4 linked regions of the Homo sapiens genome follow. The protein of the gene in region 3 interacts with the protein of the main gene of each other region in a pairwise test. Each region holds a gene or a part of one and is shown on either strand. Other genes may lie near its edges. The genes, in order: PTTG1IP, ARFGAP3, PTGS1 and PTGIS.

Region 1 (7,115 bases), on a different chromosome or scaffold from region 3:
CTTAAGTCTAACACTGAATGTGACTGCCCTGACTTCTGGGTCCTATGACTGCAAGGCTTCAACTTAGACTCCATTTATCAATTTTTAAAGACCTTTCAGTCTCATTTGTTTCCGAAATTAAAGGAAAAAACAACAACAACAAATAACGTTTTCTTCTGTCAGGATACACCAACCCTCCATGACCCATTTGAGTGCTTTCCTGAAGTTTCAGGTGAGTCAATAAACACACTAAGGACAAAGGAACACACCAGCAAGTGTACGTATTTCCTTGTCATGCTCCTGTCACACCGCAGGCCACAGGCTGCAGTCTCCATGCTCATCAGCAGAACGAGCAGCCAAACGGGCATGGTGCCCACTCTGCACTGTGACAGAGGCATGGAGAACAACTACATTGTCAATTCCAGGTGAGAAAAGAGGGCAGATATGGAGACAAAAAAATGTTCTTGGAAACTCCACTATTTCAAAAGAAAGAGTTGAAGACTAGGAGTATGTATCAACACTGTGAACCCTATGTACACTGTAGCACTCTGTACAGTTAGAAAGCCACGTTTCTCAGGGTGACAGGGGCAGAACTCCACATCAGGAGTCCCCACTGTAAGGAGCAGCTGAGTGGGACCCACCACCTCGGGGACCTGCACTGGCCACCACTGCGCCAGCCCTCACACAGCAGTCTGAGCTCCTTTTTGGGGTCGTCTTTCCTCCAGATGAAGCTCTTGGATTGAGTCTGACCCCATACACAAATAAAGTGGGGTCCAAAAGCCCTATCCAGGTTTAACTTCAAGAATCTTGCTCTAAAGATCTTCAATACACCATGGGTTCTTAATGTCTCTCCTCCATCAAAACACATAAAAAGATGCTTAAAAGTGTTGGATTTGGATTGGTATAATGTATTCTCTAAATTCACACAGTGTCCTTGTAAAGGAGACAAAACGTTTTAAACATCAGTACTGCGGTCACATTCCTGTAACCATGACAAGCAGTAAAAATCTCACACCAAGCAAGTACTCTGTGGGAAGAGGGGAGTTCTCCAGGCTATAAATAGCCCCTCTCTCCAAGGACAAGGGGCACGCAGACACCAAAGGCGCCTGGGCAGTGAATGCCAACATGACACGGCACCATTCTTCCTATTCCAAGGGGTCCCCAGTGAGAGAAACAACAGTCCACCCACCAGGACTTGGTGATTACCATAAGTGGAAGCAAGCAAGTGCAGCCTCCAAGTGCAGACACACCGAATGGCTTTTCAGCTGACACACCGAATGGCAGTTCCGGATTAATTCCCACACTGTCCACTCCACTCGTCCACACCCATCTCTGCACCCTTCAGCAGTGCAGAGCAGGAGGAATCACAGTCAAACAAAACCTCATGGTTGTTTTCCTGACACTCCCGCTTTCACAATGCAAGCAAACACACCCCCGAGCCACTGATACAGTTGCCAGTGAATCACACACTCTGCCTGCAGACGCCCATTCTGTTTGTGGAAACGTATTCACTGCACATTTGCGCTTAGAACTCAATCTGGGCCAAAAGTTCCCAGTACAGTCCCACTGGCCTCCTTGACTAACAAACTTCAAGGCAGCTGCATTGCTAACGTCACAAACCCTAAGCACACTTGGAGGCAGGTAAGAAGAAACACAAATAATCCTGCATCGGAATAAACATTCCATAAGGTCACAAAAAGAAAAGGTGCTCTACTATGCTAAACAGACACTGACAGAGCCTGGGCTAACAAGAGCTGAGAAAAGTATTAGCCCCTCAAGCTGGGCCCAGGTCAACCCTAATTGTAAGGGTCAGGAAACTGAAGTTAAGGTGGCACTATTCCCCACCACTAGTGGTCACCTGGAAACTCCACACACGGAAGCCAGCATGACATTGTGAAACAGGTCCAACCATGACACTCTCCAGCTTAGAACCTGCTGGATTTTCCCGCAGCCCACCAGGCCCTGGAGGCCCAGCCCCACAGGAAGCCACCCTCTATAAACACTGCCGGTTTCTGGAACTCTGAGTCTCCTGTCATGCACTTTCCTCCCCCAGCCCCCGCGCCCTCACTGCTTCTTTCTTGGTCAGCCTCCCGGGGACTCAGCTCCTCTTGGATAGGAGCTCTGGCTGTCGGTCACCACTGTGGCCGCAGGGCCTGGTGCAGACGGGATAAACGATGAAGAATGCCACCTGCGCGTCTGGACAGCGTAGAACCGCAATCAGCTTGCTTCAAAATCAGATGCTACAGCCTGGCTTTGGGGACGCCTTCCTTTCTAAGGCATAAGTGCGAGCGTTCGCTGCTGTGCGTGGAACTGCGGCCGGGAGGGAGTGGCGGCGTGAACGCCGGCGGCTGTAGAGACACACCGGCCGCGGCCCCATCACCCTGCAGGGGCCTGCGGCCGCCATCCCGGCCTGCCCCCGACCAGCTGTGCGACCTCGAACACGTCGTGAGCCGGCTTCCCGGCTCGGGATCGAACCCGAGGAGTGCTGTTTGGGGTCGCAGTGAGGCTAAGGGAGGCCGCAGGTGCCAAGCGTCCCGCCTGCCGGGCGAGGGCCAACCCGAGGCCACGCGCGAGGAGCGGCCGCAGCGACTGGACAAAACAAAGACAAAGACAAAGACGGCTCTTCCCCTGCCCGCGCCCCAGCCGCGACGGCAGCTCCCGCGGCCGCCAAACGGGCGTGACCCTCGAGGAGCCTCCGTCGGGGCGCTGCCTGCGACCGTGGGCCCAGGCCGCCCGCCGAGCCCAGCGCCCTGGCCGAAACCCCGACCCCGACCCCGACCTGGACCCACCAGCCGCCCCGCCCCCTTCGCGGCCCCGCCCGCCCCGGCGCCCTCACCAGCTCCGGGAGGCTCCTGCGCGGCGGCCACCGGGATGAGCAGCAGGAGCAGCGCGGCGCCACCGAGGCGCAACCTCCAGTACGGCGTCGGCCCGCGGGCCACTCCGGGCGCCATGGTCGGCCGGTCGCTCTATCAGTCAGTGGAGCGTTACAACTCCGACTCCAGCACAAGCGGTCTCCGCCCGGAACAGCCGCGGCGCCGGAAGTGGACCTGCGAGGTGGGGCCATGCGAGTGCGCAGCCTCAAAAAGCAGCTCGCCCCGCTCCCTCGCCATCTGCCCCGCCCCTCGCCAACGGGCTCGCCTCCCGGCGCGGCTGAGGTTCAGTGCGCCTGCGCGATAGAGGAAAGGAGCCTGGTAGCGAGGAGAGCGGCTGAGGCTCAGTGCGCCTGCGCGGCGCGGATGGGCGAGGCGTGACCGAGGGGCGAGGCGTGACCGAGGGGCGAGGCGTGACCGAGGGGCGAGGCGTGACCGAGGGGCGAGGCGTGACCGAGGGGCGAGGCGTGACCGAGGGGCTCGCCGCGGCTCCTGCGCCTGCGCGGCGGGGAACGGCGACCGGCTGAGGGGACTAGGGGAGCGCGGTGCTTCGGTGGCGGAGGTCACGGTGGCCTCCATCCTAAAGGGCTGCGGGCGTCCCGGACGGCGGTCCCAAGCGCTGCTCACGCTGCTCTTAAGTGAGCCCTGGACGAGGCGCGGTGGGCCCTCATAGTCCGCGCCGGCGCCCTCGCTCCACACCGCGGCGTCCGGCCCTGGGCTCCCGCCGATGTCCGCGTGGGACTTTTAGGGGATTTGTTTATTTTTGTACGTTAACCACACTAGAAACGGCCCCAGAATGGGCTGAAACGTGTGCTGCTGAAGCTGCCACCTAAACTCCCGAGAGAAGCGCCGTTTCTCCTCCATGGCTTCTCGCCGACGCCCTCGCTGCGGCCTTCCGGGCCCCTCGGTTGATAAAAGGACTAAATAGTGACGGACATTTTTAAGGCTACTTAAGAAATGGCAAAAATACATTTAGAGGTGTGAACCCGAACACACTGCGCGCTTTAAGCCCCGCGAGAGCCGGGGCCGCCCGCTTCTGTGCGCCCGTAGCTCCTTTCTCGGGTCCGGGATTCGCCGGTGCCGGGGACAGAAACCTCCTGCCTTCTTAGTTCATGACCCTTGTAGATGAACTTCCCTGTTTTCTGCACTGCTTAGACCAGAAGACGGGAAACCGTGACTGCCGCACCCTTCCCTGAAGCAGGCACTGCCCGTCGTCCATCAAACGCGAGGACTGCGCCCACCTCGTAGGAAGGACGCCGCGGTCCTGCTAAAAGCCTCCGCCTCTGCCTGCCCGAGGGCACCCTTCCCCTCCCCGCTTCCGAGGGCGGACTCCATTCCTCTGGAGCCGGTGTTTCCGGGTGGGCCAGCCTCCAACTGCCTTTGAATAACCCCCCCTTACATTAGATTCTGACCCTGTGGTGATTTTAGGTTGGGATTTGGGCGCCTGCAGATGGCTCCGAAGCCAGCCTCTTGTGATCCGAGCCACTTCTCTGGCACTCGGAGCGCTGGCACCCGCGGAGCGGCCTTGGTTCACCGGACCGCCTGGGAACCTGGCCGGGGTCTCTGGCAGCCTCCCAGGGCTGAGGTTCAGACTCTGTTCCGCCTACCCAGGTCCACACCTGATAGGGCTGGAGTTGAGGCTTGGTTTTAAGGCAAGAGTTTCGTTTGTTATTTCTCCAAAGAGTCAGCTGTTTGCAGGTGTGTGGTTAACACTATCCTTCGAGGTTAAGGTTTTGTTCGTCTTGCTAAAGTTTGCAACCTTTTTTGTCCTTCAGATTTGGAGAAGGGGAAAGCAGTTTCTCTTTGAAAAGAAGCAGCGAATCGTGGCTTAAGCAAAATTTGTAATCCTTAAAACTGGCCAGGCTCTGGAGCTGAGTTCAATTTGACATGTCTAAACTTTCTTCTTGAGTAACCAGATTTTCCCTTACAGTCTTTTGTCACTTAAGAGAACTCATAGGCAATCGTCCATCCAAAACAAGTCTTTCTCCTTCAGGGAGGACCCATCTTTGGAAACTCCAGCTGGTTTCCTGTGCAGTGCTTATGGTGCCACCTCTCGTTATATTTAGAAAAATGGTCTCACGTAACTTGAGAAAAAACATTTCAGTGACCAAAGCCGGGTACCATTGGAACACCAAGGTAATTTACTTGTTTGCTCAATTGGAAAACGCTGGCTCTAGGATAAAACGGAATCTTTGGGAGAGTTATTTTTTATGGTAGTTGGAAGCATCCAAAAGAAGTTCTAATAAAGGTATTTATGAGAGAAAAACAAAAATTATCTAAAATAATTTCTGAATTTAAAAAAGACTACTGAAATTTCTCCCCCTCCTCCCTCAGCTCCTTCTCTTTATCCTTTGTTGTCTGAATTACCTCGCCCAGACCCACCTTTCTTCCTCCTCCTCCTCCTGTTTTGGGGCCATTGCTCAAACAGCCAGTGTCTCTCATAGGGGACAACTATGTGCCCTAGTTCATGAGTTATGGTCAAAGGTAGAACTTAAAAGTATAATCAAGGAATTTCCTGATGCTCACCAGGACCCCACTGGTTTTCCCAGAGAATTTAAATACCCGAGTGTGTGACCCTGCCTCTACTTTGGGAAAAATAATTTTTTTTTTTTTGAGACGGAGTCTCGCTCTGTTGCGCAGGCTGGAGTGCAATGGCTCAATCTTGGCTCACTGCAACCTCCGCCTCCCAGGTTCAAGCGACTCCTCTGCCTCAGCCTCCCGAGCAGCTGAGACCACAGGCACGCACCACCACGCCCGGCTAATTTTTGTATTTTTAGTAGAAATGGGGTTTCACCATATTGGCCAGGTTGGTCTTGAACTCCTGACCTTGTGATCCACCTGCCTCAGCCTCCCAAAGTGCTGGGATTACAGGCGTGAGCCACCACGCCTGGCCATAAAAATTATTTAAAATAGTTAACACGAGTTCCCATTGCTGACATAAGCTTTTGCTGATAGAGCAGCCGTGTTTTCTGTAATAAATCCCATCTTGTTACAAGGTTCCATTCCTTGGAGTCAAAAAAAAGTTCAAAGGGTAGGTGTCACTAATACGCCTGTAACGGCACGTAAATCTCAGCCTATAGCTTTTCAACTAGGTCCTTTACAAGGGACTCACATTTTCCTTCTGGTTCTATCAGCTGCCAGCCATCTTATAAAAGGAGACTTCTTAGAATTACAATATCCACGTTTCTTTCTCCCAAAGGGGGAAGACGTATTTAGAATTAGATGAGAAAGCTGAGTTACTAGACATAAAAAAAGTTTCAAAATCTAACCCAATTGCGATCCCTAATTGCCCTAGAAGACACTGAATTATTGAATAATGAAGAATTACAAAACCTACTAAAGGCAGTACTTGATCAAATATGGTCAGAGTCTTCCACTGATACTGGAAGAATCCTCTTGGCTACCCCGATCAAAGTCCTTTAGTGTAGTGGACTTATTAGCACATCCTTCAGTAGTTCTGTGTGTGAAAGTGTTGATTTCTCTTTACCTTTACTTGGGAAGGCAGACAATACACACAGACAGCCATGCTCAGGGCTACACTGAGAGTCCAACTGATGCAAAGACAGTTGTCTTACATACTGACTTGTTCTTTTTTTTTTTTTTTTGACGGAGTTTCGCTCTTGTTGTCCAGGCTGGAGTGCAATGGCGCTACCTCGGCTCACTGCAACCTCTGCCTCCCGGGTTCAAGCAATTCTCCCACCTCAGTCTCCCGAGTAGCTGAGATTACAGGCATGCGCCACCATGCCTGGCTAATTTCGTATTTTTAGTAGAGATGGAGTTTCTCCATGTTGGTCAGGCTGGTCTCAAACTCTGAACCCCAGGTGATCCGCCCACTGCAACCTCCCAGAGTGTTGGAATTACAGGCGCGAGGCACTGGGCCCAGTCTTTTGACTTGTTCTTAAAAAAAATTTTTTATTACAATACATGGGCAGTTTACTCCTTTGCTCAGAAGATAAGCAAAGCTTTTATAGAAGATGGGATACATTCATTACAACAGCCCTAAAGGGACATAAAATTCCTAAAGAAAAACCTCAATTTTATAAAAAACAAAGTACTTGGGCCACTTAATATCTAAAGAAAGACTTTCTACTAATCTAGATAGACTGAAAGGAATTTTAGCTTTCCACCACCAACAACCAAGAAACAAAAGGATGTGGAGGACTGGCAGGATATTATAGAAATTGGATCCCAAACTTTTCTTTAAAGCTCAGTCCTTATACGCTCTCTAAAAACAGGACATGCCAGGACTTTAGAGTGGTCAGAAGA
Region 2 (7,020 bases), on a different chromosome or scaffold from region 3:
TTTATATAGATTGGGTTATTCATTCAACAAGTATTCATTAAGCACCTATGCTATGCTGGGCACTGTGTAGAGCATGAAAGGTATGTACACTGATGGTATGTTCCTGTCCTCAGGGAACTTATAGTCTAGTGGACAGATGAAGGGCAGATGCAGGACGGCAGGTGGTATGTTTTCTGCTCTGAAGCACAGTGTGGTGGAGCGGGAAGAGTGGCTCTGGGAACAGACTGCATGGGATCCAGTCCCCATTGTGGGCATTTCCACTAAGGAATTACTAAGCAGTGGCCACTTCTTATCTGTCATACTTAATTCAGTAATTCCTTAGTTTTCTTTAAAATGGAGATCAAGATTTACCGCCACCATCCCACGCCCGGAAGGGCTCCTCATGCTCTCTGCAGCATGGTGCTTCTGTCGCTTACAGAACAACTTGCCTTTGATGATTTTCAAGAGAGTTGTGCTGTGAGGTGGCAAAAGTATCCAGGCAGCAGGATGCCAGTGCCTCAAGGAAAAAATGGTCCTTTTCGGCAATGTGTTCGGTACTGGGGGCTTGGCCCTTGTGTATTACCGCATACAAAAGACTTTTTCCAGGGCTTTGTATTACCAGTTGGCATTGGAGCAGGTGCATAGCCATCCCAAGGCACAGGGAGCTCTGGGCCCTCTTCTCAACATTCACTGTCTCAAACTCACCAAGCACAACTTTGTGGACATTGCTGATGCCAAGTTGAAGATTCCTAGCTCTGGATCCAAGTCAGAGGGCCATCTCCATGTCAGCTCATCCAGAAGTGCCCCTTTCAGAGGTGGCACCTTGATGAGGTCTTCCTAGAGCCCAAGGATGGCCAGCAGATTCCCTTGTTCAAGCTCAGTGGGGAGAATGGTGAAGAAGTGAAAAAGGAGTAGAAACGATCCAAAAGACCCAGCTTTCTTCTAGTCTGGCCTTCCCTTATCTCCACCATGTGCCCACCAGGGGTGATGGCCCATCTGAGTGACAGACACTCCCGTAAGCTAATTTTCCAGCCACCAGTGGAATGATTGTATGTGCTGGCATATGGTAATTTTGGTATAATTCTAACTTGGGCACAACGAATGCTATTGTCATTTTTAAACTGAATCAGAAAGAAACTCTTATTATAAGATAATTTATGTGAAAGTTCTTTGTTTAAGAAAGCACATGATAAAAGGAATCAGAATTAAGAAAACATTCATTGATTTAAAAAACAAATAAATAGGCCGGGCGCGGTGGCTCACGCCTGTAACCCCAGTACCTTGGGAGGCTGAGGCGGGTGGATCACCTGAGGTCAGGAGTTCAAGACCAGCCTGGCCAACATGATGAAGCCCCGTCTCTACAAAAATACAAAAATTAGCTGGGCATGATGGCGAGTGCCTGTAATCTCAGCTGTTCGGGAGGCTGAGGCAGGAGAATCGCTTGAATCCAGGAAGCAGAGGTTGCAGTGAACCAAGGTCACGCCACTGCACTCCAGCCTGGGCAACAGAGAGCGACTCCATCTCACACGCACACACAAATAAAATAAAATTAAATAAATAAAATGGAGATCAAGACTAGCTACATAATTTGTGAAATGTACAAAATGAAAATGCAGGGCCCTTGTTTGAACAGTATTAAGAATTTCGGCCAGACACAGTGGCTCACACCTGTAATCCTAGCACTTTGGGAGGCCAAGGTGGGTGGATCATCTGAGCTCAGGAGTTCGAGACCAGCCTGGGCAACATGGTGAAACCCCATCTCTACTAAAAATACAAAAAATTAGCCAGGCGTGGTGCCATGTGCCTGTAATCCCAACTACTCGGGAGGCTGAGACAGGAGAGTTGCTTGAACCCAGGAGGCGGAGGTTGCAGTGAACCAAGATCACGCCATTGCACTCAAGAGTGGGCGACAGAGCGAGACCCTATCTCAAAAAAAAAGAATTTCAAGATGAGGCTAGGCGCGGTGGCGCCTGTAATCCCAGCACTTTGGGAGGCCGAGGCAGATGAATAGCTTGAGCTCAGGAGTTTGACACCAGCCTGGGCAACATGGTGAAACCTCATCTCTACCAAAAAAAAAAATTAAAATTAGCCATGCATGGTGGCTCATGCCTGTGGTCCCAGCTGCTCGGGAGGCTGAGGTGGGAGGATTGCTTGAGCTCGGGAGGCAGAGGTTGAAGTGAGTCGAGATCATATCATATACTCCAGCATGAGACCCTATCTCAAAAAAAAAAAAAAAGAATTTCAAGATGAGACAGCAGAGCATTAAGCCAATCACACACTCTTTTATTCTAAGTGTGGGGCCCTCTGCGACTGCATAGATCACACACATGCCCAGGAAGCTGGCCCTGATGGGGATGATCATAGTACCTTCTACTAGTACCCTACTAATGAAAGCGTTGTTAGGAAGATGAAATTGGCTAAAGTGCCAACAATAGTGCCTGAATTAAACACTCAATATTAGCTGTTATTATTATTTGTATACTAATTATTCTCATCATTAAACAAAACAAATTGTCAGTCAAAAGCTATTTCTTGCTCATCACCATAAGAACTGATGTTCTGCTTTAAAAGCCACATCTTGACTTTGGTTTGGGATTGCATATCAAATCAAAGCGCAGTCCCTGCTTCCAAAGCATAGCCTCCTGGTATAGCAGGAGGATCAAGGCAGCATTTATGGGAGCCAGACCTGTATTTCTCACCACTTCTGACCTCCACACGTCCCAGTCTCCACTTGTTAGCTCCTCTACCCCTATAAACTGCTCCACCATGTGCATTCGCATTTAGTGAGCACCTGTGTTGTGCCAGGCATGGTGCCAAGCTCAGGTGAATAAGGTAGACATGGCCCCCCCCTCATGGGGCTACATTTTAGCAATCCCTTAGCTTAGGTGATGGGTCCGGAGGATGCCAAAGCTGCCTGCCTCATTAGGAACCTCACTGCTCTCTTCTTGTAGCCAGTCTGGTGACCACCTCAGAAGTGATTCTCAAACTTGGCCTGCTCTGGGCTGTGTACCCAAAATCTCTGCCATCACCTCTACCAAAAACCCTTTGCATCCTGTCCTTGCTTACTAGGAAACAATCTTGTAACTAATTGTCTTGCCCACTGGACTGCTAGACTGTGGGCTCCATGTGGGCAGACTTCCTGAACCACGCTGGTATGTCCACTTGGTATGTGCCAGGTACACTTGATGGTAAGTGCACAGCAACTGGTAGTTGAGTAACTAGGTGAGAAATTACACACAGCCTGACGGGGAAGAACAGCACCTTTTGGCAGAGTCTGTCGTTTTGTTTGATGCCCCACAGAAGAGGGTTCTCCTAATGGCCATCACCACAGGGCGTTTGAATTTGCGCGTCTGTCTTCCCCACTTCTCAGTGAGCTCTTTAAAGACTAGCACCAATAAGCGTTCAGCTAGTGTTTGTGCTGCTACTTTTTCATACCTCATCACCTGTCACATGTCTGACATACAGCAGGTGATCAGTAAACACCAAAGTAAATCTCCTGGCCTCTTTTTGTGTCAGTTGTCACTCCACCCCGATTATTCAGTGTGCGATCAGTGTGAGCATATTGTGGTGAGGGGCTTTAGAAAACCCACTCGTGTTTCCTCTCTTGTATTGCCCTTGTATTGCCCTGAAAAGACCAGAAGCCAGATCTTGCTTGATAATGATAGGTTGGACAACCTTCACATAAGTGATTCTGCCTATAAAGTATATCTTTTTTTTTTTTTTTTTTTTTTTTTTGATAGCAGGGTCTCACTGTTGCTGAGGCTGGAGTGCAGTGGAGTGGTCTCCGCTCATTGCATCCTCCGCCTCCCAGGCTCAAGCGATCCTCTCACCTCAAACTCCTGAGTAGCTGAGACTACAGGCACGTTCCACCACGCCGGCTAATTTTTTTAATTTTTTGGTAGAGATAGGGTTTCGCCATGTTGCCCAGGCTGGTCTCAAACTCTTGAGCTCAAGCGATCTACCTGCCTTGGCCTCCCAAAGTGCTAGGATTACAGGTGTGAGCCACTGCACCCAGCCTATATATCTAATATGTATTTTTTTTTCCTGCAAAAAGATTAAAAACACCTCTATTAGAGGAATTTTTTCCCTATTCGGAGTTTAATGAGTTATAAATACTACTTTCCACAACAAGCACTGTGTATTTTATGGGCCCAGCACACTTCCGACGCGTGACTCTGCTAGTTAGCACTGTGTATTTTAAAGTACTTTTATGCTCCTGTTGGGCTTCAGTGTCAGTGTTGAAGGGGCTAGTAATTTTTGAGCTGGCAATACGTTTTTAAAGTTATTCTTTTGAGTAACAAATATTTACTGAATGCTTACCATGGGTAAGCCTATTTTTCAGGCTGTGTGTGAGATTTAAAAGTACACAACTATTCAGCAAACACTTATTGTGCGTTTACCATGTGCAGGTTCTGTGCTAGTGGACAGGAAAGTAAGGTGACAGGAGCCGGACGTGGTGGCTCACACCTGTAATCCTAGCATTTTGGGAGGCCGAGAGGGCCCAAATTGCTTGAGCCCAGGCGTTCAAGACCAGCTTAGGCAACATAGCAAGACCCCCATCTCTACAAAAGAAAAAAAAAAATCTGGGCACGGTGGCATACACTTGTCCTAACTGCTTAGGAGGCTGAGGGGGGTGGATGGCTCGAGCTCAAGAGTTCGAGACTGCAGTGAGCTAGGACCGTGCCACTGCACTCCAACCTAGGTGACAGAGCCAGACCTTGTCTCTTTAAAAAAAAAAAAAAAAAAGCCATAAAGCAGCGAGCTAGGACCGTGCCACTGCACTCCAGCCTAGGTGAGAGCCAGACCTTGTCTCCTTAAAAAAAAAAGAAAAAAAGCCATAAAGATTAGCAAAAGGGAAAGATTCTACCCCTGTAAGAGCTCTCAGTGCCCTCAGTGGGCAGGGAACGTAGTCCTCGGTTATGAACCTGCATCTAAGAGTTATCAAAGTGACCTGGACAGAGTGAGGCAGTGGAGGTAGAGAAGGGCACAGCATTTCATAAAGGAATATCTCTCTGTATTAGTCATCTATTGCTGTGTATCAGATCACCCCCAACTTGGCATCATAAAACAACAGATAGTTCTGAGGGTCAGGAATTTGGGGGTGACTTAGCTGGCTGCTTCTGACCCAGGGTCTTTCATGAGGCTGCAGTCAAGCTGTTGGCCCAGGGCTGAGGTCATCTGGGAGCTTACTCACATGGTGGTTGGCAGGCCTCCTCTCCTCGCTGGCAGTTGGACTGGGGGCCTCAACTCCTCAGCACTTCACCCTCTCCACAGGGCAACCTGAGTGTCCTCAAGACATGGCACCTGGCTTCCCCTAGAGCTAGTGATCCAAGGTGGGGAGGGAGAGAGGGGGAGAGAGAAAAAGAGAGTGGGGGAGACAGGAAAAGGCCATAGTGTCATTTGTAACCCAATCTCAAAAATGACATGGTCATTTCTGCCATATACACATAGACACACAGATCACCTTGGTAAAGTGAGGGTGGTGGAGATTACACGGGATGCAAATACCAGGAGGTGGGTTTCACTGGGGCCATCTTGGAGTCTGGCTGCCACAACCTCTTCCTCTGGCTGGGGAGAGAAGCAATATGCTCAACAGCCTGCCATCTGGTATAGCCACTGCCAGGAAGGATGGTAGGGCTGGAGTGTTTCTAGGCAGGGCTGCTTCCCTCACTAGCATTCCTTTACATGACTGGTAGGATCCCTGCTGATGCTTCAAGGATAAGGCATGTTTGAGATGGTACACAAACCTAAATTCTCTTCACTATGTATAGTGTGCATTGTTAAAATATATACATGATAGCCCGGGCGCGGTGGCTCACGCCTGTAATCCCAGCACTTTGGGAGTCCAAGGCGGGTGGATCACGAGGTCAGGAGATCGAGACTATCCTGGCTAACACGGTGAAACCCCATCTCTACTAAATATACAAAAAATTAGCCGGGTGCGGTGGCGGGCGCCTGTAGTCCCAGCTACTCAGGAGGCTGAGGCAGGAGAATGGCATGAACCTGGGAGGCGGAGCTTGCAGTGAGACGAAATCGTGCCGCTGCACTCCAGCCTGGGCGACAGAGCGAGACTCCGTCTCAAAAATAAATAGATAAATATATATATAACATAATCTGTAATATACTGTATAAATCATGTAGTAAACTGGGCACAGTGGCTCGTGCCTGTAATCCCAACACTATGGGAGGCCGAGGCTGCCAGATCACCTGAGGTCAGGAATTCGAGACCAGCCTGTCCAACATGGTAAAACCCCATCTCTACTAAAAGTACTAAATTAGTTGGGTATAGTGGTGTGAGCCTGTAGTCCCAGCTACTCCGGAGGCTGAGGCAGGAGAATCAATGGAACCTGGAAAGCAGAGGTTACAGTGAGCCGAGATTGCACCATTGCACTCCAGCCTGGGTGACAGAGCGAAACTCTGTCTCAGAATAAAAAAATACATAATATAGTAATTAACTATACTAATTTATAATTAATATAATTATATATAATAATAAAAGAGCATGAAATTTGAGGCTTTTAAAAAAACCTAGGTGAGATATTTTCTAATAATACAATCCCAAAGTTTACATTGTAAAGGTTAAACAGTTTTCAAGCTAAGTCATTTACTGTATCTTACAGGATAATTTATTTGGCTAACATAAATTAGTAACTGAATTTAACATTTTTTTTCAGGTGTGTTTTGATTGTGGTGCCAAAAATCCCAGCTGGGCAAGCATAACCTATGGAGTGTTCCTTTGCATTGATTGCTCAGGGTCCCACCGGTCACTTGGTGTTCACTTGAGTTTTATTCGGTAAGTGAATCTTCTCTCATTGGGGTGAGATTGATTACATTGTTACATGGGTGTTTTTTTCCCTTTTTTCTTTTCTTTTTTTGAGACAGTGTCTTGCCTTGTCGCCTGTCACCTTGGCTGCAGGAGTGCCATCATAGCTCACTGGGCTCAAGTGAACTCAGCCTCTACAAAAAATAAAAAATGTTGTGGTGTGATGATGTATAACTCTAGTCCTAGTTACTCAGGAGGCTGAAGTGGGAGGATCACTT
Region 3 (7,936 bases):
AGAGGACTTGTATTTTACAGCCCCATAAACTTCCTGAGCAACGTCCCCTAGCCAGAGAATGGCTCTTTCCCCTGGTTTGTCCGTCACAGGTGGCTGAGTCCCCTGATCCCAGGAGCTGATGTCTGAGGCTCTGCGGATTACACTGATGGTGGGGGCTGGCTGGGGAGGATGCCATGGTGTGACCACTCAGCCATCCTGTGCCAAGCAGATGGTGCTGGCTGTCTAGTGGAGAGGTCTGCGGGACAGGGCACCTGCAGTGGAAACTCCCCAGATGAACTTGGGGACTCTCCACTTAGAGTCTCCTGCTTGTTTATCTTCTTGGCCCATTCCTGGCAGGATTTGGGTGTTTGTTTAAGGATTCAGGGTTTGAGATCCAAGATAACCAGCGATGAGCGTAATAGGGAGTTACACTTGTAAATGTTGAAATCATACAGGCCATGGCTCAAATCCCAGCTCTACCACCCATATATAGCCTGTGGTATAGGCTATAGCAAGTCAGTTAATTTTCCTGTTTATAAAAATGGAGACAAGAGGAACATCTACCTCATGGGGCTGTTAGGAGTTATAAAGGGGATGATGCACCAAAAATCTTTAGCATAATGTCTGCCACATGGTAAGTGCCCCAGAAGTGGTTAAAACTCCTCCCACTTTTCTTCCTCTCTGCATAATCTACGGACATCTTTGAGCCTCATTTTCCTCTTTGCACAATGGGGATCATGATACCTTCTTCTTCCAGCAATTGTGAGGGTTTCCATGAGAAAGGGATGTAAACGCATTTGGTAGGCCGGGTGTGGTAGCTCATGCCTGTAATCCCAGCACTTTGGGAGGCCAGTGTGGGAGGATCACTTGAGCCCAGGAGTTCAAGACCAGCCTGGGCTACATAGTGAGACCCCCGTCTCTACAAAAAAACAAATAAAACAAAATTAGCTGGGCATAGTGATATGCACCCGGTAGTTCCAGCTACTCAGGAGGCTGCGGTAGGAGGATCACCTGAGCCCAGGAGATCAAGGCTGAAGTGAGCCAAGTTCGCACCACTGCAGTCCAGCCTGGGCAACAGAGTGAGACCCTGACAAAAAATAACCAAAACCAAAACCAAAACATTATTTTGTGACTCTCAGTTCTCAGCTTCTCAGCTGAACTATGTTGCTTAAATTGGATCCCACACATCGCTCCACAAGCCGACTACCACCCTAGCGAGCCTTTCTGTTTCCTTTTAACTTCAAACACTCGTTGGTTATGCTGGGGCTTGGGTACAGGTACCCGGTATTCCAGAACAAAAGGGTTGGGCCTTGAAACCTGACTCTTACTGGTTGTGCATCTTGGACAAGCTGCTTCAACACTGGGCCTCACTTTCTTTCTCTGTAAATGGAAGTGATGATACTGACTTTATAAGGTTGTTGAGAAAAATCACATGTAACAGTGCATTTAAAACACATAGCATTCTACCCTGCACATAGTAGATATTCAAGAAATATTAGCCATTATTATTATTACCTCCAATGGTCAACCCTAGCCTGGTTCTGAGTAGGTAAAGAGGAGGAGGAAGGGAATTTTTCATGCAACCCTCTTGCTCAGGTAGGGAGTAGAAGCGAGGGCCAATAAAGAACTAGCATTGAGCTCCTACTGAATGCTGGGGATGCTCACAGGGACTATCTTACTTCATCCTCACAACAACTCTTGCAAGAGTGGCATTATTAACCACGTTTTTACAGGTGGGGGAACTGAGGTCCACAAAGGGCAGTTTGCTGCTTAAGGTCACACTGAGAGGTCAGGTGGGGTGGAGGACTGGGATTTGAAGAGATATTGGATTGAGTCCAGAGCCTTCCTGCCTGACTGAGAAGCTGCCTACACAGGTGGGGCCGGGTGGGGCTGGGTCCATGAGTGATTCAGGTAAGAGTCAGCTCTGGTTTTCCAAATAGTGGGTGGGGCCCAGCAGGAGTGAGACCTCTCCAGGAGCATTACAATCCAGGCTGTAGCTAGGGTGAGCAGGAGGGCACGTGATTGGTGTGGATAATGGGGAGGGGGCTATGCAGAGAGAAATCCTATCCCTTGTTACCAGTGGGGTATAGGGAAGGAGGTCCTTGCTGCCTTAGCTGGGAAGGGCTCAGGGCCTGGGGTGAAGCTGGGCCTGTGGGACAGCTGGGGGTGCTGGCCCATGGGACAAGCTGGAGAAGGCAGGGAAACTGAGGCAGGCAGTGATACTTTTGGTGGCCGTCACAGCAGATGGGTGGTTGGCAGTCACTTCGATGAGGCTGGTGCTGGACCTGGTCTGTTTTTTTAATGCATTCACTACTCTTTTAGATACTCATTCATTTCTTTGTTCAAGCAACAAACATTCCCTGGATGTCTTTTATCCGCCAGATCCTATGCTTGGCCTTGGGGCTACAAGAGTGACCAGGACTCTTATAGCCTCATAATGTTTGGGGGCAGAGGGACAATGTGATCAGGAGTGGCACTGCTGTGGCCAGGGAAGGCACAGGGGCTTCCTAGAGGAGAGAAGGGGGAGGAGGAGGCATGTTAGAGGAGGCCTACCAGGGGACATGGGAGGTGGACTTGCCCTATAAGTGGAAGCTCACAATCTTGAGGACTAGGATGGTGACACCAGTCCTAGGCATTTAGACTATAGCTTTGCAGTAGGGAGCAGGAAAAGGTGGCCCTGTGCTGTGGTCTCTTTCCCAGGGCTGGGGCAAGGGCTACCCCAGACCTCTCCCCTGTGTATCCAGCTGCATGCTGGGGCGGTTGGGGGTGCTGGCCCATGGGCCAAGCTGGAGAAGGCAGGGAAGGTTTGATCCTCCTCATTCCTTGAAGTGGATCAAATACAAGAAGCCCAAATTCAAATTCCACCTACCCATGCCAGCTCCCCTTCCCTGGATATTACCACCAGCATTGAGCCAGAAGGCTAGGTGTCCTCAGCACCTTTCTTCCCCTAAGCTCTAGTGCTAATCGGTCACCAAGCCCTGGCACTTCTGCCACCATTTCTCTCATCTACCTTCTCCCCACTCCATGCTCTTGGTCCTGCCTCATCCCTGGAGGGCTGCCTCGGCACCCTGCCTGCTCTCTCAGACTCCATCCTCTCCTGTATTGCAGCTGTGTTGAGATCTGTGGTGCTGGTCACAGAGCCTGGCTGCAGTGAGGGCTCAATTGCTCCATGCTGGAACTGGACCAGTCCTCAGAGACCATCTGATCTGCTCATTCTGTTGTTCAAATGGGGAAACAGAGGCCCAGTGAGGCCTAGCGGCTTGTTTAAGGTCACGCTATGGAAGAAGTGACTTGAACTCACTTCTGATTCTGAGGTGAAGGCTCTTCCCATCAGTGCCAGGGCCACACAAGTGTTTCTTGTTTTGAGTGCAGATGGGTGGCTTGGAAGTCAGCAGGAGGCACAGGTGTGGTGACTTGATGGGCTCAGGGCCCAAAGGGAGGGAGGGCCTGGGAGTGGAAGATGGAACCTCATTCAAGCCCGTCTCTCCTTTCTTCTCACCAGAAACTCCCCCTTTCTTTGGACAACTGGACCCCCACACCTCCACCCTGTCCCCATCCCTTTTGCTGATAATCCCATCTCCTTGCCCTGTAAATGCTAGGGGGCCCTTGATTTGGGGAGGAAGGGAAGGCTGAAGCCGGTCCCGGCACCCTGAGAGCCCCAGGGCCCTCCAATGCCCCACTCCTTCTCCAGGTCTGCCCTGGCTTGCTCTGTCTCCCTAGGGCAGCTGGCTTTTGTCCCAGGGGAGCATGGGAACAGCTTGGGTGAGAATGGGGGAGGGGCTTCCCAGCAGGTTTCACCTCTCCCACCTGGCATAATTTCTACCCTGCACCCAGTGATGCCCAGGAGCCAGCACAAGAACCTCTGAGCTCTCCTGCCGGCTTTCCCCACTGTGGGGCCCACAGGATGGCTGGGTGTGCTGGGGAAACTGAGGGAGATGACTTGTGGGTGCCAGCACCATGGGACTTTGGGTGATCTTGGACCTATTCCTTCCTCCTTCTAGGTGCTTCCTGAGCTGGCGAAAAGGAGAGCTGGATGCTGGGATTCTATAAATTCGGCGGTGGATGTGAGTCTAGCTACAGCATGGACCCTGGCCAGCCCTGGAATCTGAGTTCAGAGATCTTTGAAAAAATGCCTTCCGATAACTGAGCACCTACTACATGCTGGACACTGCACCAGGAGATTTGTGTGCATTCCCTCATTGAATCTTACAACCACCCTCTGGGATGGTTTTTGCTATTAAGCCGATTTTATAGATGAGAATACTGAGGGCTAGAAAAGATAAGTACCTTGTCCAAGGTGACACGGCCAGTAAGCTGTGGAGTCTGGATTTGAACTAGGCTCTCTTGGAGTTTGGAGCCCGGTCTTTTCATTTCTGGCAGAGACCTGTGGCTTCAGGGGGCGGAGCCCAGCCCATGGGGGAAGTAAGTCCTTCCTGTTAGATCTGTCTGAGGAGTAGTGAGTTTCTCATCTAGGAAACCATCAGCAGGCCAGGCTGGACTGCCCCATTTCTAGCCCCCTTTCTTCTCTGCAGACTGCCCTGTTTCTAGCCCCTTTTCTTCTCTACCCTTTTCTGTAGAGTGCGTTAGACCCATTTTACAGAAGGGGACTCTGAGACCCTTTCTTCTCTGCGGGGCAGGGTATGTGGTTCAGACGAGCCGCTTCCATCCCCAGTTCTGTCCCTAAGCCCTGGGTGACCTCAGCATTGAGCATCGTCTCTGAGCCTCAGTTTCCTGTCTATATCTAGTGCCACCAGGCATCAGAAACGTAAGTGCTTCAAGGATCTTGGGTGAAAAGCCGCTTTAGCGGCGAGCATACACTAATTAATAAAATGCCTTGGCCGGGGCTGGGCAGAGGAAGTAAGCGGGCAGCCGAGGTGACAGCTGGAGGGAGGAGCGGGGGTGGAGCCGGGGGAAGGGTGGGGAGGGGATGGGCTGGAGCTCCGGGCAGTGTGCGAGGCGCACGCACAGGAGCCTGCACTCTGCGTCCCGCACCCCAGCAGCCGCGCCATGAGCCGTGAGTGCGACCCCGGTGCCCGGTGGGGAATTTTCTTGGCCTCCTGGTGGAGCCTTGAATGCCAGGCTCAGCCCCTCATCTCTCTCCTCTGCAGGGAGTCTCTTGCTCTGGTTCTTGCTGTTCCTGCTCCTGCTCCCGCCGCTCCCCGTCCTGCTCGCGGACCCAGGGGCGCCCACGCCAGGTAGGCGGCCCCATCCCTCCCCAAGGGAATCCCCGGTCTTGCGCCCCTGGCCTGGTTTCAACCCCCTCCTTTCCCCTCCAGCGGGCCCAGCTTCCCCTTTCTGCTCGCGGTGCTGAGAAAGACTGAGGCTGAGTCTTTTGGTGGGATGGGGGCTCCCTGAAGCCCCCCCGGCGGTGTGGCCTTGGCTAATGGGCTATCTAGTTCTTTCAGGGGAAACAGCAGACTGGGATCTGGTGCCAACTTGGGGAGAAGGGACAGTCCCTATCCATCCCCCTCACCTGTTCTGGGCCCCAGATGTCTAAGCAGCCTCTGCACCCAACAACCCCGCTGTTTCCTATAGGGGCCTCTTTGGGAGGAAGCCGCAGGCACCAAGGGAAATGAGTTCCCTTTCTCCAGCCTCTAACCGTCTGGGAACCCATCCTGATTCCCATTGCCAGTGGAGAAGGTCTCCCCTGGTGAAGACTTCGGGAGAACATGGGAGATGGAAATACATTTAGGAGCCGGGATGCTTCATCTGGGGTTTAAGAGATCCCCATTGAGCAAATGAGGAAACCGAGGCTCAGTAGGTGCCATGATTCCCCAAGCTCACAAAATACATGGTGGGCCCAGGATCTGAACTCAGGTCTGTCTGCGTCCACACACTTCGCAAGGTCTTTCCACAGAAAGCTGCTTCTACCCACAATGGACCCGGAGCCACTCTGGGTTTCATGGGGGAGGTTGATGGGGAAATTCCGCCCTTCCCTCCCCCATGCATGTGCCAGGTTCCAGGTGAAGGAATTCAGCTCCTCGCTCAGCCAACCTTCCTCCCCCAGCTCGCTGCTTGTGTGTGTGCGTGTGTGTGAGCATGTGTCCCAGTTGGATATAGTTTCCTCCACCACCTAGCTGTGTAAAATCTCTAAAATGAGGCCCAGAGAGGGCAGGAGGGAGCAGAGGGAGTCCGCACTTTCTGCTGTGATGCTCTAAGGATCTGGTGCGTGGGGGAAAGAGGAAAGATATGTACATGGATTTTGGATCAGACCAAGTTTCCTGAAACGGGCTTTGGGTGGGTGGCATTTAGGGGACCCAAAGAGAGGACGGAGGGTGCTCTAGGAAAGGGATTGCGTTGAATAAAAGTCTGGTTTATGGGAAGAGGAGGAGGAAGACTCATGTGGCCAGCACTTTAAAGTTTACAAAGGTTGGTTGTGGACATCCACCTCTTTGGTGCTCTCAACAGCCCTGCCAGAGAGATGCGTTAGACCCAGTCTACAGAAGGGGACTCTGAGGCCCAGAGGGAGTGAAGCCACTTGTCTGAATCCTCACAGTGAGCTGGTGGTGGGGAGTAGAAGGGGCTCTTCAGGTTGCCTCGCTGACCCATCTTGTCAGTCCCTGGATCAGCCCAGCACTTCCTCTGAGGCCCCATCTGGCCTCATCCAGGCACTCTTGGTATACAGGTCCCACCCGTCTGTATTCTTTTTTAGTCCATTCACTAATGCACAATGAGCCATGGTCTGTGCTATTTTGTTTTTTGCCTTTTCTGTTTCCTTTTGTATAATAAATGTTTACACGGAATTGTTTTTTTTTATCCCCAAGGGTTATTTATGCCAGTCTTTGGCTGGGGCCTGGAGACACGGAGCTGGGAGGAGCTGACAGGCTGATGGTGGAGCCAGAAATGCCAACAGACTGTCATCCAAGGGGACCAGGGCTGTGCGGAGCTCATGGGAGGAAGCAGGGGTATAGGGAGCCCAGGGAAGGGAGCAGGGGTGTGCGGAGCTCAGGGGAGGGAGCAGCTGCCTCTCAGTGCGAAGAATTGAGGGAGGCTTCTTGGATCTGATGACTTTTGGACTGGACCTCGAAGGAGGTGGCGGGTGGGGGAAACACTAAGAGACTCGACCAGGAAACACCGTAAGGGTAATGTGGAGCAGGAGGCTGAGGTTGGATGCGTAATGTGGGGATGAGACTGGAGGCCAGAAAACTGGTACCGAGGCTCCTGCAAGGATCTAGGAAAGAACGAATGACTGGTGGAGTGCAGGGGCAGAAGGTCTGGGTTGCCCTCATATTTCCAAGTCTGCGAGTAAACTGAGGGCCAAGCTACTTGGGCATCTGCCCCAGGAAGCCAAAGCCTGTCTTTTACCTCTAGAGGCAAAGGAGATGAAGAGATGAGGGCTGCACTCACCTAAGAGGGCAGGCGGAGGGAGAGAATGCTGCTTTTGCCTCTCTGGTGGGTGAGGAGATGGAGGCCAGCCTGGAGGCAAGGCTGTGCCGGGGGCGCCCTGAATGCTCAAGTACTTCCCCTCTAGTCTCTGGACTTGACTCAGTGCCCATCTTCTAGATGGGGATAGGGCATGACCTGGCAACCAGAGCTGCATGCCAGGCAGAGGAGCCCCAGGCCAGCTGACCCGGGCACATGGGGCAAGATGCCAGCTGTGCCAAGGCTGCCCGGGTGCCTGCACCTGCTCTCGCCAGCACCAGTTGGGTCTGTGGGCCGGGAGAGGGCTTCCCCACCAGCAGGCTCTTCCAGCTGCTGGGCCCAGTTGTCTGGATCTGGTGTGGTGGTGCTTAGGTGTGGGGACTGGGGCCCAGGCCAAACCAGTCAGGGTTCCCCACCTTTTTTTTTTTTCTCTCTGGCTGCCAGGTCCCCAGAGACTCTCTAAATATTACTCTTTAGGGGATTTGGGTCCTGCCTCTTCACTGGGCAATCTTGCAGCCTGACACCTCTGCATCCTGGAGGACTTGGTGTTCCCTGGCTGTGCCTGTCCCCTAGTCACGCTCAGTCCTGGACCTGG
Region 4 (7,385 bases), on a different chromosome or scaffold from region 3:
CCGGCTAATTTTTTTTGTATTTTTTTTTTTTTTAGTAGCGATGAGGTTTCACCGTGTTAGCCAGAATGGTCTCGATCTCCTGACCTCGTGATCCGCCCTCCCGGCCATTGTCCTTCTTTAAGAATTTTTTGCTTGTAGTTGCATTTCTTAGTATCTAAAAGTCACATGGTTCTAAGACTTTTGAGTGTTCAGATTACCAGTATAATGTGTGGGAAGACTGAGAATTCATTCTTCCTGTGAATTAAAAATTCTTGCAAAGCCAGGCGTGGTGGTTCACACCGGTAATTCCAGCACTTTGGGAGGCTGCGGTGGGAGGATCGCTTGAGCTGAGTTTGAGACCATCCTGGACAACATGGCAAGATGCCATCTCTACAAAATTTTTAAAATTAACTGGGCATGGTGGCACACACCTGTAGTCCCACCTACTCAGGAGGCTAAGATGAGAGGATCACCTGAGCCCAGGAGTTCAAGGCTCCAGTAAGCTATAATTGTACACTGCACTCCAGCCTGGGCCACAGTGTGAGATCCTATCACTAAAAGTAAAAGCTAAAAATTCTTACAGCCCAGAGTTTTAATCCAGACAGACCTTGAGCAAGTTGCTTAGCCTTTCTGAGCCTGTTTCCTCCTCTGTAAAATGGAGATAACCAGAGTGTCCCTAGCTGAACTGGAAGGAGAAAGTGAGATTGGGGATCTAAACTGGGGTCCCCAGGGTCCATGCACCTACCCTCAAGCTGCCAGTGACCCTCATTCCCACACTTCTCCCCACTACCCACTGTTGACCCTTCCAAGGTGCCCACAGGTATAAAAATCAAAGGCTCAGCAGGGCGCGGTGACTCACGCCTGTAATCTCAGCACCTTGGGAGGCCGAGGCAGGCAGATCACCTGAGGTCAGGAGTTCGAGACCAGCCTGGCCAACATGGAGAAATCCTGTCTCTACTAAAAATACAAAAATTAGCTGGGCATGGTGGCACATGCCTGTAATCCCAGCTACTGGGGAGGCTGAGGCAGGAGAATCACTTGAACCCAGGAGGCAGAGGTTGCGGTGAGCCGAGATCGTGCCATTGCACTCCAGCCTGGGCAACAAGAGGGAAGATCCATCTCAAACAAACAAACAAACAAAAAAAGAGCCCATAACGTATTCACATGATGGAAGACTCCAGAGAGGATCAAAAGAATGGATTCGATCTCCTTGTAGCAAAAAGATCTGCTTGTAGCAAAAAGAACAGATGTCAAAACTAAAATCTGGAGTGAAAAGAGCAAGCAACATAATGTCTGAAAACATTTCTATACAGTGTATTGAGAAAGCCTGACAGGAAAAATAATTCATTTCTTCCCTGAGACATTTATTCACTGTCTTTTTCTTTTCTTGTTTTAAGGCAAATGATTGACTACACAGTTGTAAATTTCAGCTGAAAAGATGTCTGGAGGTTGAAGAAAAATACAGTGAGCTTATTGTTTGAAAATTCAACTACCATATTGTTTAAAAATCAAAAAGTTCCCAAGGTTTCCGGAATTTTCAGACACGAATGTAAACTAACTCTCTCTTACGTGGCTCTGTATTAGCTACAAGCTCATGTCTATGTATGTAAGAGTAATTTTTATGTAAGAGTAATTTTTAAAACATCTGGGAGACTGAGGAGGTATGAAAACTAAAGGCAATGTGGTAACTTGGGGCCGGATCCTGGAACAAAAGAGGACAGTAATGGGAAACTGGATAAAATCCCGTGAAGTTTGAAGTTTAGTTAAGAGTAACGGACCAGTGTTGGTTTTTAGTGGCGACAAATGTCCCATAACAATGTAAGATGTTAACAATAGGGAAAACGGGGTGAGAGAAATACAGGAACTTTTTGTACTATCTTTGCAACTTTCTGTAAATCCCAAACTAGTCTCAAATAAAAAGTATATTTTTTTAAATATGGAAGGTTCTACCCAGACTCAGCAACAGGAGAGGCCCAGAGAGGGAGAGAGGACTAGACTTCAGGGGCTGGGGGAGGGTTAAGGGGCTTCGGTCTTACCTATAACAGGATAAATATTTGTGTTAAGTCGAATGTATTCAGCTATTCCTTATGCAATTCAAGTTAACTTAAAAAATATTTTATGAAAAGGAGAGCTACAGCTATCTCCTTGATTTGAGGCTGTCTTTACTTTTTCTCCTAAATCACAGATGCTCAATGGAGCTGGAAAACCTTTGGGACCAGGAGGCTGTGACATCTGACCCTGGCTCCGTTCTGTCCAGGCTGTGGGACCTCAGGGGAAGGTAGAGACTTCATAGGCCTCAGTTTCTCCCTGGCAAATGAAATTACTAAGCCCACCGACCCCCGTCTTCCAGACGGGGAATCCCGGGGTGGGTGGTTCCAGGGCATGATCAAGACATCCCCCAGGGGCTCTACACTCCGCTGGCTCAACACTCCCATCTGTGTAATGGGTTGAGGAGCGAGGCTATCCCTATAGGACTGCCGAAAGCAAGGCAGGGTTTGACAGCGCGTAGGTGGGTGCCAGGTGCAGGCAGAGGCTGGAGAGTGGAGAGCGCTTCTTCCACCCGGGCCACGCAGAGGCTGTCCCCGCACGGCTCCCCACCCACAAACCCTCGGTCCTCACCTGAAACCCCCTCCTAGGTCCCTGCCGTCGCGCTAAGGGCCAGACTCGGACTTGTCGCGGTGGGCGATTCGCCCCGGGGGACCTACCGGACCCCGCACCTTCCCACCTTGCACCTTCTTGGCAGGGGGAGCACGGCCTGGCCCCCTCACCCACGTGCGGGGCCCCGGGACTCCCACCTCCGAGGGTCTCGCCTTGCCCGGGATACTGGAGCGGGACTCGGGCCGGGCCGGCCGCGGGCTCCGAGACCCTTGGGCTGCAGCCCGGGCGGGAGCCGCCCCCTTTGTCTGGCGGGGCCGAGCGGAGCAGGACACTCACCGCGTGCGGCGGCGGCTCAGTAGCAGCAGCAGCAACAGTGCGGCCAGGAGGCCGAGGAGCGCGGCCCAAGCCATCGCGGGGCTGGCGGGGCTGGCGGGGCTGGCGGGGCTGGCGGCCTGGCCCACTCCCAGGTAAAGTTCCCCGCCCCCACCCGGCGCGCCCCTCCCACTCCGCCCACCCCAGCCCGCTTTGGGGCGGGGTGGGGGGGGTGGGGGATGGGGCCCTCCGAGGTCCGCAGGGGTCGGACCGGGGCGCTCTGTTAGAAACCCTGCTCCCCCCAGCTCAGGCCTGATGGAAAATGTGGGAGGGAGGGGAGGGGAGAAGGAGGGGGAGGGGGAGGGGGCGGAAGGGATGTGGTGGGCTGGGGAGTGATCAAGGGGAAAGGAGATAGATGGGGGACTGAGGGGGATGTGGTGGACTGGGGGGTGATGGAAGGGAGGGGAGAGGGAGAGGATTTACAGGAAGGAAGAGATTATATGCGGGGAGGGAAGAGGGATGGGGAAGATGGGAGAGGACTTTTGGGGAAGGGAAGAGGAGGGAATGTGGGAAGACGGCGGGACGATGGGGAAACAGCCAAGGAGGTATGGGGAGGAGGGGGCACAGTGGGAGGAGAAAATGTGGTGGGAGGGGACGAACATGGAGGAGGAGTGTAAGGGGGTCAGGAGGAGCTTTCCCACCACATTCCACATTCCACCTAGACAGAGGAAACCCCCCAAGGCTCCTCCTCACCCCATCCCCCACCCCAGGCGTGCTGGGGACCTGGAGTTTTCCATTCTGTGGTCTGGGCTGGGAGGGCTGGTCTGGATTATATCGCACCCTATAGTATCTTCAGTAACTACTGGGCAGGGGGTACAAGGGTGTCTCAGGGAGTCCCCTCATCCTCACCTGCTTTGGGGACAGATAGTGCCCGTGAAGTATGCACCCTCTACCTGGTGCACGTTAGGGCCTCCGGATGTGGTGGCCATTGTCATCGCTACCTGGTGCTTGGGGTGCCAGCCCCCTGTGCCCGCGGCTCTGCAATGTACCACCCCAGGGTGCTGATGAGAACTGGGGGTCAATCCAGCCTCACTCCACGCCCCTGCCCCCACCATCCCCATTCCCACCCTGGGAAGCGTTGGGCAGGTAGCTCAACCTCTCTGAGCTCACCTCATTATCTGGAAACAGGGAGGGCAGAGTTGTGCTTACCTCTGGGGCTGTTGTGAGGAAGTGATGAGAGCTTGACACTAAAAGGAATCACAAACTGTTGAGTGCTTGGCACACTAAGTTTTATGAAACCATGGGCTGAACCTGGAGGTAAGACCCAGGAGGTCTTGTTCTAGTCCTGTATCCACCCATTCAGTGCCGGGTGAGCTTAGGCACGTTTCATTCCATAGTCCCAGCAGAGCTCTGGAGAAGCTGTTGCTCCTCCTGGTCTCCTGGCTTCCATCCTTATCAGCCAGGGTCCTGACAAGGCCCTTCGAGAACCAGCATGATCCGCCCCTTCTCACCTTTACCTGCCTGACCCTATGCCCCCGACTCTCTCCCTCACCCACTCTGCTCCAGCCACACTGATCTCCCCATCTTTCCCTAGAGGTCCCACTGCAGGGCCTTTGCACGTGCTGTTCCCTCTGTTCGGAGCATTCTTCGCACAGCCTGCTCTTTCCACCACCTCCCCGGTGCCTCTATCTCTGCTCAGCTGTCACTGCAGAGAAGCTGTCTTTGGCCACCTGGTCTAAAACAGTCATCTCCTCTTACTGATTTTTGTTTCTTTGTTTTTTTGATAGTTTTTTTTTCTGGCAGTACTTCACATGTCCTGCTATCATACTCAAGATTCATTCATTTGCCTGCTTAATGTTGGCTGTCGAGGCAGCTGGATGACCCCCTTGTGGCCTCAGCAGATTCAGAACAGCAGGAGGCAAAAGGAGTTTTCTGATCCTCTTGTTTATTTTTCCAGCTTATCTGCCAGAGAAGCCAACAATCCCAAGAAGGCCATAGAACGGGTCCAGAGGATTTTCTCCAAATTTGGGGAGCTCCAAAGGGCTGTCTGCTAGCAGTGGGGTTCACAGCTGGGCTTGGCCGATCCTCAGCTTTGTGACCCCAAGCAGACTGCTCCACCTCCCTAAGCTGAGGTTCCTCATTGACAGAATGGGGAAAAGAGAACCTCATGGAGTTGAGGTCAGGAACAAACGACCTGGTCCATGGGGCACACCTATGTGAGTGCCTGTCACACCATGAGCATCAGGGAAAGTTAACCGCAATTAGCGCTTATACCAGTTCCGCTCCTCTCCATTATCTGTGATCAGGCTTGGTCTCAATTTTCCCATCTGAAAAATGGGAAGAACAGTTCCTTCCTCATGGGGCTGCTTTGAGAACTGAATTAAATGAAAAGAGAATGAAATCACCCAGCACAGGGTCTGGTATACAATAGGTACTCAATAAATATTAGTTCTTCTACTCCCCACCCCTGGCTTCAGTGCAGACCAATATCACCTCAATACAAATATCTCTTCCAGATACTCTCTTCCCTTCTCGACCCATAGACAAAATCCTCCCAGGGAAGGAGAGGCAGCTGCTCACACACCAAAGGGAGATGAATGTGAGCCTCTGGTTCTTCCTGGATTTGTTCAGGAGTCGGCATATGTTTAGGAAGGTGGCCAGGCCCCCTTCCCAGAGAATGACCCACCATGGGTCTGAGCTGGTCCAGGAAATCCACCTTTGCTAGTGATTTGTCCTGAGGTGGGCACCTTCCAGATATCTGTTGCGGGCTTCTAGAAAAATGTGTTTCCTTCCTATTTGCCTTCTCTTCTGCTTTGGGGGCAATCGTGTGGGAATGTGATTAGTGGGGGAGCTGAGGGGGGCTGTAGTGTTATGAGGGAAGGCCAAGAAAACTGCAGAGCCCCAAACCAGAGCTGCGGAATCACCATCCCTGGAACCACCTGCCTATAGATTTCTCATTTAATGAGCTAACCACACGTCTGTGCTAGGACACCATGAGTCAGATTTTTCTAATACTTGCAGCCAAAGACATTCCCAACTGAGACGCCTTCTAGATATGGCTGAAGGGAGGACCAAATGAGGCAATGATGCATCCGGAGCACCTCTGCAGGACTGGCCCATGCGAGAATTCAAAAGTGTTGCTTTGTTTTATTATTTTTACTTTGCTTACTGTGTAAGCTTTCTATGTTTATCAGGCTGACAGGACATCCAACCCTCTGGCTATGGCATCTTGGAGGAACAGGCAGGCCTTGAAAATAGCAGAAATTCCGAATTCCCCTGCCCCGGGAGGACTCAAAGGACCCTGCTGAGGACAGAGCTGATATGGCCTCAGAATAAAGATGAGGGAAGACCATCCCAAGGAAGACCCCTCTAGCCCATGGCAAAAGGGCTGGAATACGCAAGGATTTGAAAAGCAAGTTTTGCTTTCCATATAAACCTAAGCAAGTCGCTTAATCTGTGAGCCTCAACTACTTTACTTGTGCAATGGGCATGTTGCTGGTAGTGGTGATAGCAGGGAGCCACCGAGAGAGCTTCCAAGTGTGCCATCTAAGCCCTCCTCTGGGGAAGGGAAGCTCCTCTGGGGAAGGGAAACTGGACCCCCGGGAAAATTTATTCTCCCAGGGACGAACATCCAGACATTTCCCTGTAGGAGCCTCAGTGTGTTCAGATGTTCACTGTCCAGTAGAAACAAGACATCTAGGCAACTCTCCCATCTCACCAAGCCTCTGCTCTCTTCTGTGGCCACTGTGGGGTTGTGAGAGTAATGTCAAGACCCAACCCAATTAGAACACAGGGAATTTTGCCTGGGAAAGGGAGCCCTTCTACCCTACACCCCTGCTTTCTCTCTTCCAAGGATCAGGTCTGATTCATGTCTGCATCCTAAAGGCTACAAATAAACTGTGTCCGGAAAGGAAAATATTATGTGTATTGCCTTCTTCAAGGCTAAAAACCAGTCTCAACAGAGAGGGGCAGTTTTAAATATTTTTTTGTAACAATAGTTCTAACTTTAGTTAGTAACTGAAGCCATCTGAAACACTTTTTCATAATAATTTATTTATTCCCCACAAAGAACCTATAAAATGGGTAGTAAAATTATTCCGAATTCACAGATGGTGAAATCAAGGTCCAGAAAGAGTCACTTCACCCAAGGTCACGTAGTACTTCCTTTGATAAGCTAGAGCATGGGAATTTGATGGCTTCTTAGGACAAGCTAACTTACTCCCTGGTGCTGCAAACACACCCTGGGCCTTCCCACCTCCACACCTTTGCTCATGCTGTTTACCTGCCTGGAAGCCCTCTCTTTCTCTACCTTTTGATTTTTCCAAATCGGTTAGGAGCAGGTTCTCCAGGAGAGCCAAGATGAGATGAGATATACTAAAGGCTTATTGAGGGAGTGCCAGGGAGTAAAATGAAGAGGGAGCCAGAGAGGGCTGGGAGAAAGGGACAGAAAGGAGGACAAATGGAAGGAAGGGACAGAGGAAAGAAGGGACCGTGGG

What was found.
Region 1: the proteins of PTGS1 (region 3) and PTTG1IP interact in binary tests that used the Homo sapiens proteins (3 or more experiments, as listed by UniProt).
Region 2: the proteins of PTGS1 (region 3) and ARFGAP3 interact in binary tests that used the Homo sapiens proteins (3 or more experiments, as listed by UniProt).
Region 4: the proteins of PTGS1 (region 3) and PTGIS come close enough for resonance energy transfer, tested with the Homo sapiens proteins (one study listed by BioGRID).

What each region holds. Positions count from the first base shown.
Region 1 is NC_000021.9:44,870,687-44,877,801, forward strand, and holds the start of PTTG1IP (pituitary tumor-transforming gene 1 protein-interacting protein isoform 1 precursor), read right to left. Parts: upstream 3,005-7,115; 5' UTR 2,931-3,004; coding exon 2,816-2,930; intron 1-2,815. UniProt on the Homo sapiens protein: May facilitate PTTG1 nuclear translocation.
Region 2 is NC_000022.11:42,847,266-42,854,285, reverse strand, and holds part of ARFGAP3 (ADP-ribosylation factor GTPase-activating protein 3), read left to right. Parts: intron 1-6,653; coding exon 6,654-6,772; intron 6,773-7,020.
Region 3 is NC_000009.12:122,366,099-122,374,034, forward strand, and holds the start of PTGS1 (prostaglandin G/H synthase 1 isoform 1 precursor), read left to right. Parts: upstream 1-4,925; 5' UTR 4,926-4,986; coding exon 4,987-4,993; intron 4,994-5,087; coding exon 5,088-5,174; intron 5,175-5,514; exon of another isoform or gene 5,515-5,717; coding exon of another isoform or gene 5,718-5,736; intron 5,737-7,936. UniProt on the Homo sapiens protein: Dual cyclooxygenase and peroxidase that plays an important role in the biosynthesis pathway of prostanoids, a class of C20 oxylipins mainly derived from arachidonate ((5Z,8Z,11Z,14Z)-eicosatetraenoate, AA, C20:4(n-6)), with a particular role in the inflammatory response.
Region 4 is NC_000020.11:49,565,130-49,572,514, forward strand, and holds the start of PTGIS (prostacyclin synthase), read right to left. Parts: upstream 3,009-7,385; 5' UTR 2,988-3,008; coding exon 2,914-2,987; intron 1-2,913. UniProt on the Homo sapiens protein: Catalyzes the biosynthesis and metabolism of eicosanoids. Catalyzes the isomerization of prostaglandin H2 to prostacyclin (= prostaglandin I2), a potent mediator of vasodilation and inhibitor of platelet aggregation.